Linked DNA regions of Homo sapiens: region 2 is reported to be linked to region 1. Evidence: microRNA targets listed by miRTarBase, many of them from high-throughput screens and not tested one by one. Region 1 holds a microRNA gene; the other region holds the end of a gene's coding sequence.

Evidence for each region. The annotated mature microRNA hsa-miR-3606-3p reads AAAAUUUCUUUCACUACUUAG and lies in region 1 at 815-835, opposite strand. An mRNA with a match to its seed (bases 2 to 7 or 8) in the 3' UTR can be bound and repressed. Matches are read on the target gene's strand: a 7mer-m8 pairs with bases 2 to 8, a 7mer-A1 pairs with bases 2 to 7 and ends in A, and an 8mer does both.
Region 2: miRTarBase lists CHD8 as a target of hsa-miR-3606-3p. Seed matches in the 3' UTR shown: 7mer-A1 at 988-994.

Annotation. Positions count from the first base shown.
Region 1 is chr2:188,993,506-188,996,505 of GRCh38, reverse strand. MIR3606 (microRNA 3606) reads right to left here and starts at 876; the gene lies at 814-876. It overlaps COL3A1 (collagen type III alpha 1 chain), which reads right to left. Exons shown (of 51, transcript NM_000090.4): 17 at 2,424-2,468; 18 at 2,174-2,272; 19 at 1,912-1,965; 20 at 1,675-1,782; 21 at 1,407-1,460; 22 at 716-814; 23 at 328-381; 24 at 10-108.
Region 2 is chr14:21,381,965-21,386,203 of GRCh38, reverse strand. It overlaps CHD8 (chromodomain helicase DNA binding protein 8), which reads left to right. Exons shown (of 38, transcript NM_001170629.2): 38 at 28-1,005. The coding sequence ends at 591. It overlaps SUPT16H (SPT16 homolog, facilitates chromatin remodeling subunit), which reads left to right and starts at 2,185. Exons shown (of 26, transcript NM_007192.4): 1 at 2,185-2,342. The coding sequence starts at 2,277. LOC107984643 (a long non-coding RNA gene) reads right to left here and starts at 1,931. Exons shown (of 2, transcript XR_001750627.2): 1 at 1,491-1,931.

The DNA of each region.
Region 1 (3,000 bases):
GGAACTCACATCATTTCCTTTAGGACCGGGGAAGCCCATGACACCAGGCTGACCTCGGGGACCAGATGGCCCAGGAGGACCTGGTCGACCACTTTCTCCTTGACTTCCCTAATAAGAAAAAATTACATTAATAAAGGTTTGATAAAGAGAAGATTAAAGCATGCTATATATATAGTATGTGTGTGTGTGTGTGTGTGTGTATATATATAGATATACATATACATATATATATATACACACACACACACACACACACTCAAGGATAGGCCAACATATACATTCCATTTTAACTGGCCTTTTAAAATGAGATTTTAAAAATGTACATACGGGAGGCCCTGGTTTCCCATCACTTCCTGGTCCTCCTGGACTTCCGGGCATGCCCTGAAGTAAAGAAGTCAGTTGTTAGGTGATTTAAAATGAAATAATAAAAAATTACTACATACACTATTTGTATGATTTTGATATTTTCACTTACATGTGAAGCCTCAGATTTGCACATCTTTTTTCCTGTCTATAAAGTATCTAAGGCAAGTGTTCTATCTTCTCTTCTCCTTGAACTATCTCGGCTTAAGTTTACTTAAAAGAATTTTGTTTTGTTTGGTGCCTTACAAAATATGTAATCTGATTGATTTAAGTTGCTTTTGATCTGTCTTCATTTGTCTTGCCTTTCTTCTGTCTAAATTAAAGTGTCATTCAAACAAATGTTTCTCTGTACCCTCATTCCTGGACCTCCAGGGACGCCATCTCTGCCAGGTTCTCCAGCAGCTCCTCTGGGCCCTGCAGGGCCTGGAGCACCACGCTCTCCAGCAGGACCCTAAGTAGTGAAAGAAATTTTAAAAAAATTAAAATAGCCTTCACTAACCTAGATAGCAACAATATTTTGGTTACAAAGAGAGGACGTCATTTGAACTTTTAAAAAGGGTTCGTGTGTTGCTGAAACATTTATACATAAAATCAGTTATCTTAGCTTGGATTGCCATATTGAAAAAATTTTAAAGCAACTTTGTGAACATCACATGCTTAATAAAACAGTATTCACTGTGCTTAAAAATATAATTATGTGCAGCTAAAATCAAATATCTTAATGCTATGAAATCATATTTGATGTAACCTTAGAGTTTTCAAAGACTTTTCAGGCATTTTAGTTTACTGTACTCTTGCAACGATGCTCAGATAAATGCTTTCCAATTAACAGATAAGTAAAGGATTCTCATAGAGGGTAAGTAAGTGGCTTTAGTTACAAAGCCAGGAAAGTTGTTGAACAGAGGATGCATTATATTAGGAATTTTTCTTAACTCTAATATATATTCTTCAGATATTTAGGTTTTCATGAATGAGAAATTGTATACAAGAACTGCCCATTTGTGGTGCTAGCATTTAGGAACATAGAAACTAAAGTTATCTACCTTTTCTCCTGGGATGCCATTTGGTCCAGCAGGTCCTCGGAACCCAGGGGCACCCTGAAAATAATGAAAGACAAGTATTTCAGTCCAAAGGATTTCAATTCTTTTTCATAATTCTTGAGTGGCAAATATTTTTATGTCATAGAATGCTTTAAACAATATTTTCACTGAACACTCAACTTAAGAAAAATTGGCTGTCTCACCCTGAAGGTAGTTTTATTTAGATGACAGTGATGCTGCTTTTCTTTTAGATGCCCCATGGAAAACGTACCCTTTCTCCTGCAGCTCCTGGAAGCCCATTTGCACCAGGTTCTCCAGGTGATCCATCCTTGCCATCTTCGCCTTTAGCTCCTGGAACACCTGGAATACCAGCCTCACCCTGAAAAAAAAAAAAGATGGTAAAATAAAGAAATTATGACTGAATTTAGTTCAAAGTTTTTACCTGTTTACTTTCTAATTATGTTGCATTTTTTCAAGAAATAACCAGATCTGTTGCAGTAAAACTTACGCGTTCACCACGTGGTCCGGGCTCTCCTTTGGCACCATTCTTACCAGGCTCACCCTAAAGTATAACAAAGTCTTGGTTGAAACACAGGGAGGATTCGACTAACAAATCATCACCAGTAACACATAATTCAGTTATAAGTTATAAGACAAGAGTGAAGTCAATATAAATTCAACTGAACAGGAGCAAAATTTTGCTATTAATTTTTTGTTGATGGAATTAAACTATACCTTTCAGTCAACAGAGAAAAAACAAGGCAACTTACTGCACCACCTCGCAGTCCAGGAGCACCATTAGCACCGGCTGGTCCTGGAGGACCCCGGGCTCCCATCAGTCCAGGAGCTCCAGGAATGCCAGCGGGACCCTAAGAACAAACCAAAGACACTATATTAGCCGAACTTGAATGTTCTTTTATGAATATCTCACTTAAATATCACAAATCTATTGTCATGCAAAATGCAAAAGAAGCCAGTAATGTGTGGATGAGATAAGGCTGAGGAGTGGGGACAGCTTACCATTTCGCCTTTACCACCAGGACTACCATTAATCCCAGGAGGGCCCTAAGTATACAAAAAACAGATAATGTATTAATAGTAATGCAAATAGTTCGTATATATTTGAAGTTGTTTGTGTGAAAATAAATGTATCGATGAGTGTTATGCTTTGTAGAGATTAAGTGAATCCTCCAACTATAACACAACATATGAAATGTGGTCAAAAGAATCATCATTATCTAAATAAATTAGAGATAATATGTACTTCGTATAAATTATTAAATGATACATAAATAGAAGAGATTTTGAATTTGGTTCTTCTCTGAATTTTTATGATTGGTGATTAGCTTGGGGCACATTCTTGAAAGCATCAGAAAACTAGTCTATCCTCTATTCTTTTATATAAACATAAAAAATCATGAATTCTGGAATAGTGCAACAGTCAAAAACTATCATTTTTACTACTAATCAAATCAGTATGTGTCACAGGAGGATCATTTTAGAGCACTAAGCAACAATTTTTTCAAAGTAATTTTCACTGATAGCCATATTGAAGCACATGCTTTCATGGAGTAAGCATGAAACTATGCTTTCATGG
Region 2 (4,239 bases), not on the chromosome of region 1:
TTATTATCTTCTATTCCCTCCTCCTAGGGTCATCACACTGAAACGGTGTTCAACCGGGTTTTGCCAGGGCCTATTGCACCAGAGAGCAGCAAGAAGCGGGCCCGTAGGATGCGACCAGACCTTTCTAAGATGATGGCCCTCATGCAGGGTGGAAGCACTGGGTCTCTATCTCTGCATAACACGTTCCAACACAGCAGTAGTGGCCTACAGTCTGTGTCATCTTTGGGTCACAGCAGTGCCACTTCTGCATCTTTGCCTTTTATGCCATTTGTGATGGGTGGTGCACCATCATCCCCTCATGTAGACTCCAGCACCATGCTTCATCACCACCACCACCACCCCCACCCCCACCATCACCACCATCACCATCCAGGCTTGAGAGCCCCTGGCTACCCCTCTTCACCAGTGACTACCGCCTCTGGTACTACCTTGCGGTTGCCACCACTGCAACCTGAGGAGGATGACGATGAGGATGAAGAAGATGATGATGACTTATCTCAGGGCTATGATAGCTCAGAAAGGGACTTCTCACTCATTGATGATCCTATGATGCCAGCTAACTCAGACTCCAGTGAAGATGCTGATGACTGAAGCCCCAGCATGGGCCCCATTGCTTGGGCGGCTGCTGTATTTTCATTTACTCTGGCCCTTGGACTATGGAAACGTGGGAGGGGCAGGGGAGATGTGGGGAAGTCCAGGACTCCAGGAGGTGAAAAGGAAAAAAAAAAAAAAATGTACCTGATTGCTCCCAATTATGAGAGGATTGGGTGGGCAGGGGAACTCCTAAAATAATACATGACCACTTCCTCATTTCTGGGGAAGGAAAGGAGACTAGAGCAGCTGGTGTGCTCACCCCTCCCTAGTCACCTCCATTAACCACAGACTATGTAGCGCTGGCCCTAGCCTCTGGCAGAGCCTGTTCCTGGCCGAACTGTGGATACAGCTGGAGGGTCAGGAACTGTTACCTTCTTTCCCCTTGGCATTAATAAATTTAAGTTAATCCTTTTCCACTCTTCCTTTGTTCTATGTTTGCTCAAACCCAGTGTATTGATTTTGAGTTGTTAATGGTGGGTAATTTCAGCACCACTTTCCTTAAGTTCAATACTGTTTATACTAAATTGCCTTACAGCAGACAAGTCATCTGTACTCCTCTAAAGGGTATATACAAATGTAGACTGTCCAGCTGGCTAAAGGCAAGGGAATTATTTAAGGTAAATGGTAGGTAGGCAAACTTCTGGATTCAAACTCCAAGTTTTTAGAAGAGACAGGGAGCAAGAATGTCATCAGGAACCATTTATGTTTTGTTTCTAATTAACTGAAGTAACGGTTATTTGGGGGAAGCCATAGAATAGTGCCAGTTTTCATGAACTGCAGCAAGGGGACTGGCCGACTGGAAGGATGCTGCCGCGACTTGGGCTCAGGGGGTGGGGTTGTGGGAAGGAACTAAAAGTTTGTAGAGCCCCTCAAGTCATCTGTTTCCTCTGACTTACACCATCCCACTGCTCAGTTAAAGCTTGCGCATATTATTTTCCTTTCGAAAACTAGGTTCCTCCCCCAGCTTGGGTCGTAGTTTATCACGAGGCTGGGCTCCATTTCCCTGGTATGAGTCCTCTGTCCCGGCGGAGCGCTTGACCCAGCATCCTGGCACCGAGGATCCCTCGAGTCCTGGAGCAGTCAAGGGCTTTTGCATTCCCATCATTTCTAGGAGGGGCGCATGCCCAGTTACACTGTAGTAGTCCCACTTTTATCCCACGCTAGATCCCGCTCTTTCCGCTCCCCCTTCCTTTGCAGATGGGGTGGAGCTATAACACCCGCGCGCGGCAGCTCTTGTGGGCGGGGCAGGCGCCGCCTCCTTCGCTTCGTCTAGGGACTGCCGCCTCGGCAAAAAGTCTGAGGTCCTGGAAACCGCCGCTGGGCTGAGAGTTAATAAGGGCGGAGGCAGACCGTCACGTGACGACGTCGATTCGCGTGCGGCAGTGGCGAAGTTGACAAACCCCGCGAAAATCGACTCTTTGCATCGCACATTTTGTTGATTTTCCCTCGTTTTTCTTTCTCTCTTTCCCCCGTCCATCCGAAAGAGGGTTGGAAAAAAACAAAACAAACAAACAAACAAAAAAAAAACCTAACGCTGTTGGGACCCGGAAGCGGAAAGGGCATCTTTGAGGTCGATACTTCCGGGTCATTGGGAGAGTGCGGGATTCCTGGGCCGAGAGCGGGTGGCTGAGCCGGGACCTCGCGTGATTCTCGGAACCCGAGGAGAAGCGGCGTCCGGGGCTATGGCTGTGACTCTGGACAAAGACGCTTATTATCGGCGAGTGAAGAGACTGTACAGCAATTGGCGGGTGAGGAAGATCCTGTAATTTTTCCTAGGGAGCCCCCTTAGCCATCCCATAATAACCCTGTTTCTCGGCGCCCTTTTTTCTCTTTCGGTCAGGAATTCCCGGGTTCTGTGCCTCACCCTTTTCGTTGCTCCCGAATCATTCACCGGAGGCGGCCACGAACGCTGCCCCTTAACAGGGAATCCCCCGCATTCACCCTGTCCTGCGGCCATCACCATCTTCCCCGCGTGCCAGCCTTGGTCATGCATAGCAGCACCTCTCGCAGTCTCTTCCCGCCCTAGAAGAGGCAACATCCTTCCCTCCTACTCCGTGGTCACGTCTTGCTGCCCTCCCCTGCCGTGTTCTCACGCACTCGCTCTGTCCCTCCAGAACCACAATATTCCACCCCTGGTCCCGCCAGGATTATAACCGTCTTCGTAAAGGAGAGATGGAAGGGCAAGGAGGATGTCAATCGGGCTTTTAGCGTTTATCGTTTGCGGGGCTTTTGCTGGAGTTAAAAAAAGAAATACTGCTCACGCGCAACCGCCTCATGTTCTAGGCCCTGCTGTGGGTTACAGAGAGGGACCTAACGCTGAAAGCCTGCAGGCATTAGTAATAACAAAACAAAACAAAACGATGCCTAAAACCTTATTAGTTCCTTGGTAGCGTATCCGGGGCACGTGTTCATTAAAAGAGCTGTGGCAGTTCCCAGTTTTTTAAAGATTCGGCAGTTTTGCTGCTCTAAAAACGTCCACAGTTAAAACTTATTTTTATGATGTTAACTTACTAATTGAGCAAACATTTGGTTGCATTCTGTGATGCAGTCTGAGTTGGCTAGCTTAAGTCTTGCCCCTGAACCCTGTCATCAAGGGAAGATACAGCTAATAAAGATTTTTTTTTAACCTGAAAAACGTTTTGAGAAAAATGATCAGCTCTCATTTCAGCATTGTAAATTATCTTTCAAACTGGTCATCTACTAAAACCAAGCCATTAAAATTGGTCGTTTCCTTGCCATTCATATTAAAGCTGTCTGTGCATGTTTCATCTTTTGGGGCTAAATACATTAGATAATTGAAAATAAAATTGATTCTCTTGCATTTTATGAAAAGGAAAAATAAGAACTAAATGCTAGATGAATACTGAACATTTTATTTTTTTTAATTTTTTGATTAATTTCTACCAAATGATTTTTTGCAGCTTCTCTCAGTGTCATATTATTCAAACATAATCGATGTTAGAAAAACATTTTAAAACCTTGATACTTTCTAATGATCAGTAAGTACTAAAAATCCGAAGCCCTCTCTTGTACCCATAAACCCTGAAACTGTGAACCTTTGGTATGAAAATTGTTTCTAGTCCCAGTGATTCAGATTCATCAAATAATTTCATTCTCTCTATACCATTCATGAAAACTAATCTATAGCTCTCACTTCCTCTACATGACAAATTAACTGTGGCCTGAAGACAGGTTGGCAAACCTAATAAAACTGATAGTCTTTAAATCCATGAAAGTTATTTCCCACCCACCATTTTTTTTTGTATCTCAAAAATCTTTAAAGTTTATCTTGGCCCTCTTACTACCTTAATGACATCATCTTGGGAGAATGTTAGATATTGATAAGACACTGATGGTGTAAAGTTATGAGCCAAATCTATGTAAAAATGTACCAGTTAACAAAACCTGTGGCTATTATGAAAAACTTACTTGAATAAGACTTTCTGCTTTTGTGTTAATGTGTCCAGAACCCACCTGTAGAAGTTCTTTGTGTATGCAGTCTTTTCACCCTACAGTGCTTTCATTCTGATACACTTAATCAGAGATAGTAGTTTTCTGGGTTAAATCTAGTCGCTTATCCTCCTGGATATAGCAGAAAGATAGTGGGATATATAGGTGTGTTGTATAACTTTTCTCTTTTACACC